Homo sapiens: one gene and its partner. The protein of the gene in region 1 purifies or fractionates together with the protein of each later gene. This does not show direct contact. Each region holds a gene or a part of one and is shown on either strand. Other genes may lie near its edges.

Region 1 (3,648 bases):
GCGGAGGCGGATGGATCACGAAGTCAGGAGGTCGAGACCATCCTGGCTAACACGGTGAAACCCCGTCTCTACTAAAAATACAAAAAATTAGCCAGGCATGGTGGCAGGCGCCTGTAGTCCCAGCTACTCGGGAGGCTGAGGCAGGAGAACGGCATGAACCCGGGAGGCGGAGCTTGCAGTGAGCCGAGATCGCACCACTGCACTCCAGCCTGGGTGACAGAGTGAGACTCCGTCTCAAAAAAAAAGAATTAGCCAGGCATGGTGTGGGCACCTGTGATCCCAGCTACTTGGGAGGCTGAGGCAGGAGAATCGCTTTAACCTGGAAGGCAGAGGTTGCAGTGAGCTGAGATCACGTCTTTGCACTCCAGCCTGGGCAACAAGGGTGAAACTCCATCTCAAAAAAAATAAATAAATAAAATAAAAAATAAATAAATAAAAGAGAGAGAGAGAGATGGTTATGGAACCTGAGTTATCACATAATATCAAGCAGTTTTTCTGGGTTAAATGGAAGAAAAAGGCTATCAAACCAAAAGAATACTATGGTTACAACTATGAAAATACTGAATAAGGGGAAAATGAAATTTTCTGTTTTTGTGTTGCGGTAGGTAAAGTATAGATTGTCTGTAATGTGGCCATGTTGTTTTTGTAATAAAAACAGACACAGTGATCTGAAATACAAACAATAGTAATCTACTTCAGCAGAAACTCCATTCCTTTATCCTTGAACATGTAACACTGAAGTCTACCAAAATCTCATGAATTTTTTTTTTTTTGAGACGGAGTCTTGCTCTGTCGCCCAGGCTGCAGTGCAGTGGCATGATCTCAGCTCACTGCAAGCTCCACCTCCCGGGTTCACACCATTCTCCTGCCTCAGCCTCCCGAGTAGCTGGGACTACGGGCGCCCGCCATCACGCCCAGCTAATTTTTTGTATTTTTAATAGAGACAGGGTTTCACCATGTTAGCCAGGATGGTCTTGATTTCCTGACTTGGTGATCCACCCGCCTCGGCCTCCCCAAGTGCTAGGATTATAGGCGTGAGCCACCGTGCCTGGCCCCCAGTCTCATGTATGATTTTATATTTCGAGCCAAAACCTGAGGAAAGCAACTTCTAACTTTATTTTTTTGATTTTAATTATTTAGCTTTAAATCTTTTTTTTTTTTTTTTTTTTTTTAGAGACAGGGAGACTCTGTCACTGATGCTGTAGTGCAGTGGCACCATCATAGCTTAACTCTAGTCTCTAACACCTGGGCTAAAGCAATCCTTCCACCTCAGTCTCCCCTGTAGCTAGGAATATAGGCACGTGCCATCATGTCTGGCTAATTTTTTTTTTTTTTTAGTTTTTATAGAGACGGGTCTTTGCTATGTTGTCTAGGCTGGTCTCAAACAATCCTCCTACCTTAGCCTCTGAAAGCATGGGATTTTACAGATAAGCCACTGAGCCCAGCCTTATAATTTTCAAATAAAAATCAATGGGCGAATTGGATTAGATATGACAAATTTAGACATAAAGACTTTTTTTTTTTTTTTTCTTGAGACAGGGCCTCCCTCTGTAGCCCAGGTTGGAGTGCACCATTACAGCTCACTGCAGCCTTGATCTCCAGGCCTCATGAGATCCTCTTACCTCAGCCTCCTGAGGAGCTGGGACTACAGGTGTGCACCACAATGCCTGGGTAATTTTTGTAAAGACTGGGTTCCCACTATGTTGCCCAGGCTGGTCTCGAGCTCCTGGGCTTAAGCAATCTACCCACCTTGGCATCCTGAAGTGTCGGGATTACAGGTGTGAGCCACTGCACCCAGCCCTAAAGATTTTTTAAAGCAAAAATTATGTGAAGTGAGTCACATTTGTACAGATTACGCTGAGGTGAACACCCTCTCTTTCAAAGTAGTGGGGTCACAATTATTGGAGAAGCTATTGACAGACTAGATGTCAATCAAGTGAACATGGGATCAGGGAAGAACAGTTCCTGGTTTCACAATGTTTGAGGACAAATATCCCCTGATGAGTAACTTAAAGGGTTGTTGGATCCCTTCATGGCACTGACGTGGACTGAAAGTCTTGGTCATTTGCACTAATCCCCACTTCTGCTCCTTTATACCCAGATGGTAGAAGATGCACTCACCTGTTGTTGGGCTGGGAGGTGAGGGTGCCATTCTGTTCAGGTGGGGTCTCTACTGGTTTGGATTTGAAGTAATTGACCAGCCCCCCAAACACGCTCTTAATGCTATTGATGTGTTTCTGGCTGATCTTCAAATCTTGGTCCATCTTGTCCACCATCTTCTCTGTGCGCTCCAGGACTCCTCGCTGACGGGCGAGCTCCTGGGGAAACCGAGAGGCAGTGGCATTATAGCTTTCTGTGACTCTCCCCCAGGGCAGTCAAGGACCACATGGAGCAGCCCCTTCATAAACTCTCAGTGGGCACATCTGGAGACGGGTACTGTCATCTGTGAGGGGCACACTACCCTTTCCAACAACACATTCCTTTGCCTCTCCCTCCCTGCCCTACCTCTACTTGCTTTCCTCATTTGTTCATGAGACCCTTTTCCTGAGAGGCTGGCTCATGGCGCCATGTTAAGATGGATGGCAGAGGGTGGCGCAGTGATTCACACCCGTAATCCCAGCATTTTGGGAGGCTGAGGCGGGCAGATCATGAGGTCAGGAGTTCAAGACCAGCCTGGCCAACATGGTGAAACCCCCTCTCTACTAAAAATACAAAAAGTAGCCAGGTGTTGTGGCGGGCACCTGTAATCCCAGCTACTCGGGGGGCTGAGGCAGGAGAATTGCTTCAACCCTGAAGGCAGAGGTTGCAGTGAGCCAAGATGGTGCCAATGTACTCCAGCCTGGGCGACAGAGCAAGACTCCGTCTCGGTTGGGGGTGAGGGGAGATGGATGGCAATGTGCCTGTGAGGTTCAGAGTCTATGGCCTGAACTGGAAGCAGATTCTCTCTAGCCCTCCAACTCTGGGAACCCTCACAGGTTGGGCCTGGCACTGCCCCCTGGACTTTGGTTCTTATATTCTTCCTTTAGGAAGTTCCCATTTAAGGAGTTCCCACTGGGCCACCTGAGCCTCCTGGCCATGGTCAAATCCTCAAATTCTATTTCAAGGACCAGTGTCCCCTCTGGGCCCTATTAGTGTCTGACTCTAGCCCATCCACAATTCCAGCTTTAAAACCTGTTAACACGGGTGACCCTGTCCCAGGGCCTTTGCACACACCACTGTCTCCGCCTGTAATGTTTTCCATCCAGATACTTACATGGCTCAGCCTCTCATCCCTCATCCAATTAGGGTCTCCTTTCAAAGGCCACTCTCTCAGAGAGGCCTTCCCAGACATCTTCCCTAAAGGAGAATTCCTTCTTCCAACCACTACCCCTCTTCTCCACCTCCTTTTCTGTTTTGAGATGGAGTCTTGCTCTGTCACCCAGGCTGGAGTGCAGTGGCGTGATATTAGCTCACTGCAACTTCTGCCTCCTGTGTTCAAGCGATTCTCCTGCCTCAGTCTCCTGAGTAGCTGGGATTCCAGGCGCCTGCCACCATGCCTGGCTAGTTTTTTGTATTTTTGGTAGAGACGGGGTTTCACCATGTTGGCCCGGCTGGTCTCGAACCACCCGCCTCGGCCTCCCAAAGTGCTGGGATTACAGGCATGAGCCA
Region 2 (3,648 bases), on another chromosome or scaffold:
CAGGTGGCCCCTGCATGTAACTTATGTTAGAAATGCACAATGCTTGTTCTCTGGTGCCACAAAGAAATAGTGCTCGAACATTAATTTTCTCAGCAAGGCAGTTTTTACTTTCTGCAGAAAGGGTGCCCCTCGCAGATGGAGCAATGGCAAGAGCACACCTGAACAAGGGAGGGGAAGGGGTTCTTATTCCTGACACAGGTAGCCCTACTGCTGTGTTGTTCCCCTGTTGGCTAAGGTTGGACCACACAGTCTAAGCCAATTCCAATTGGCTATTTTAAAGAGGGCAGGGTAAGAGTCAGAGTGGTGGGGTGAGTAGTTTGACGGGAAGGACGGTTAGGAACAGGTAACTCAAGGTGACTTAGGTCAGAGCAGGTGACCGGGATGAGTCAGGATGGAGCAGGTGACCAGGGAACAGATGTGAACTACTGATTAGGACTGGCGGGAAAATTGTTTACTGAAACTAGAAGCAAGGGGCGAAGAGAACCAGGAATTTTAAATGGAGAATCAAAGAAGAGATCTGGCCGGGTGCAGTGGGTCACGCCTGTAATCCCAGTACTTTGGGAGGCCGAGGTGGGCGGATCACGAGGTCAAGAGATGGAGACCATCCTGGCTAACACGGTGAAACCCTGTCTCTACTAAAAAATACAAAAATTAGCCGGGCGTGGTGGTGGGCACCTGTAGTCCCACCTACTCGGGAGGCCGAAGCAAGACAATGGCTTGAACCCGGGAGGCGGAGCTTGCAGCAAGCAGAGATCACGTGACTGCACTCCAGCCTGGGCGACAGAGTGAGACTCTTGTCTCAAAAAAAAAAAAAGAGATCTGAACATACTGACTTACTGATTCTTTGAAGACAAACTTGGAGTTCACTATATTTAACACTTAGGACCCCTAGTATCTGCCACTGGGCTGCGGGGGCAGCTGCAGGGACACACACCTGTTGGGTGCCTGCTGGTTCCACCCAGGAGCACAGCCAGCAGCCTCATGCCTCCTGCCCCCTGGCAGTCGGGTGCACGTGGAGCAGGTGGCCTTGGCCTCGACAGGGTTCCCAGGGTCCCACTGGAAGCCCCACATGGAACTGTGCCTCTGGGACATTGCTCCAGGGACCTCGGGTGCGGGCTGGCCCCATCCTGTGGGGAGGTCCTGGGAGGGTCAGTCTGGCCCGCCTGCCTGCTGACTTGGGTGTGGCCTGAGCAGGTAAAGGCGACACAGGAGGAGAACCGGGAGCTGAGGAGCAGGTGTGAGGAGCTCCACGGGAAGAACCTGGAACTGGGGTAAGGAGGCCCCGTCTCCTGTCCTCCCCGTCCCCATCCCCCTCGCCATCCTTGTCCCCATCCCCCTCGCCATCCTTGTCCCCATCCCCCTCGCCATCCCTGTCCCCGTCCCCATCCCCACCTGGCCTGGGACCGCTGGGCACCCGAGGCAATGGCTGTGTGTCTGTTCTCCTCCCACAGGAAGATCATGGACAGGTTCGAAGAGGTTGTGTACCAGGCCATGGGTGAGTGCCCGGGCCACCGAGGCCACGTGCCTCCACGAGGGGCTGCCTATGCCCCACCCTGGCCCTGCCCTGCACCCTGCCTAGGACCCCACCCTCCTGAGGCCCCTTTTCCTAACACACGAGTCCCTTCAACATGGGCCCGGCCGTGGAAGCACTGAGGCGAGTTGCGGGGAAGCTGGTGGTAGTGAGGCTGGTGGCTCCCACGGAGCCAGGGCTTGGCAGGCCCCACAGTTGTGCAGATGCTGAGCTAGCAGTGGGGCTGTGGTGGGAGCAGAGTCTGTCCCGCCGTGGCCTACCCCACTCCACCCTGCCCTCGCCGTGCGGCTATGTCTAGCAGCAGCCTCTGTAGGTGTCTGGCAGGACGGGAACACCAGGCCTCATCTGGCCTCCCAAAAGCTTGGGCTCCTGGAGGTGCTACTGTGGGGATCTGTCTTAGGCTGAGTGTCAGCCGGCGGCAGGTGACCGCCTGGCCCTTGCAGTCCCTCCAGGACCACCACGAAGCACGACGCACATCCTGGAGCTCGCCATACCGGCTCCCAGGCCTCACCCTAGGCTCTAGGGTGTTGGGCGCCGCCTCTTCAGGGACCTCTGGCCCAGGCTCCAGTTCCCTGCGGATCTGATGTGGAGGAAACAGCTGTTTCCTGGGCTTTGCATCCGGCCTAGAAGATCCTGGGTGGAGGGACCCATCACCCTCCGAGGCTCACACCCACTGCCCACCTCTCCTCCTGGCGCTCGAGTCCCTTGCCTCATTCCTTGGGCTGTCTCTGGCACCCATCGTTTCGGTTGCCTCCTCATCCTGAACGTTTGCTTTTCTTTTCTCAAGAGGAAGTTCAGAAGCAGAAGGAACTTTCCAAAGCTGAAATCCAGAAAGTTCTAAAAGAAAAAGACCAACTTACCACAGATCTGAACTCCATGGAGAAGTCCTTCTCCGACCTCTTCAAGCGTTTTGAGAAACAGAAAGAGGTGATCGAGGGCTACCGCAAGGTATGTCTCCGCCACCCTGGTGTCCTCACCTCGGAGGCTGATGGACTCATGGTCCAAGCCAGCGGGGCTACAAGCTGCTGTCTTTGCACCTTGGTCCTTGGCCAAGCCTCCCCTTGCCACGGGGGCATGGGATGACCTGTGAACGAGACAGGGTGCAGGAGTCACAGCATAGCTGGTTTGCGAGGCAGCTGAGGGCGGCAGGAGGCAGAGTGAGCAGGGAGGCCATCTGAGCCGTCCGCTGTTGTGTGACAGACGACTCGGCTATGATCAGGCATCTGTGAGATTTGAGACAGCGCTGGTGCACCGGGGCCTGGGGCACCTCGGAAAGGTGTCTGGGCTGTCCGAGCGCTTGGGTCCCAAGGGTTGGGGACCCAGGGCATGCAGTATCCAAGGCGGGAGGCCCACTGAAAGGTGGTCACGGCTGTGCAAGGCCACCCTGGTGTCCTCCTGGCCACGGGACTCTGAGCGCCCCCCACCTTCTGTGCTGGGCAAGGCCCACATGCTTGCTGGAAGGAGGGATGTCTGGGCCATCCATCTGCCCAGAGCAGGCCTGGAAGGTGCCTGCGAGGCCGCCAGAGGGTTCTGCCCACAGCAGCAATGTTGGAGCGGAGGTGCTCAACGCCTCCTGTGGAGGAGCTGGACCTGCAGGTGCAGCTGGAAGAGGGGCTGTCACTGTTGGTGCAAGGGGGTTGGGGACACCAGATGGGTCCCCTGGGAGTCAGACTAAACTGGAAAAGCGGCCCTTGCAGGGCCTGCTGAGCCACACCTCATCTGAGTCCTGAAGTCAGGTGGGTGTCAGTGGCTGGGGCCCAGCTGCCTAACAGAAGCAAGCCTGAATACTCTAGGGAAGAAGGTATCTTATGCTTTAAATTGCTGCTGCAGTTTTAAATTAGTGTCTGGCACAGAATAACCAAGTGTGAAAGGAACAGGAAACATGAGTGAAAATCAGACCCGTTATTAGAGTGAGGCATGGTGATGTACACCTGTGGTCCCAGCTACTAGGGAGGCTGAGGTGGGAGGATCATTTGAGCCCGGGAGGTCGAAGCTGCAGTGAGCCATGATTGTATCACTGCACCCCCAGCCTGGGCAATAGACCAAGACCCCCATCTCTAAAATTAAAAAACAAAAACAAAAACTGTTGATAGACCCACAGGAGCCCCAGACGCTGG

What was found. The genes of interacting proteins can lie anywhere in the genome.
Region 2: the proteins of SNAP29 (region 1) and TACC3 purify together in Homo sapiens (affinity purification with mass spectrometry; 3 studies listed by BioGRID and IntAct, with this or other methods). This does not show direct contact.

What each region holds. Positions count from the first base shown.
Region 1 is NC_000022.11:20,869,007-20,872,654, reverse strand, and holds part of SNAP29 (synaptosomal-associated protein 29), read right to left. Parts: intron 2,319-3,648; coding exon 2,122-2,318; intron 1-2,121. UniProt on the Homo sapiens protein: SNAREs, soluble N-ethylmaleimide-sensitive factor-attachment protein receptors, are essential proteins for fusion of cellular membranes.
Region 2 is NC_000004.12:1,738,508-1,742,155, forward strand, and holds part of TACC3 (transforming acidic coiled-coil-containing protein 3), read left to right. Parts: exon of another isoform or gene 1-1,191; coding exon of another isoform or gene 1,192-1,194; coding exon 1,195-1,271; exon of another isoform or gene 1,272-1,451; coding exon 1,452-1,495; exon of another isoform or gene 1,496-1,974; coding exon of another isoform or gene 1,975-2,054; exon of another isoform or gene 2,055-2,318; coding exon 2,319-2,479; intron 2,480-3,648. UniProt on the Homo sapiens protein: Plays a role in the microtubule-dependent coupling of the nucleus and the centrosome. Involved in the processes that regulate centrosome-mediated interkinetic nuclear migration (INM) of neural progenitors.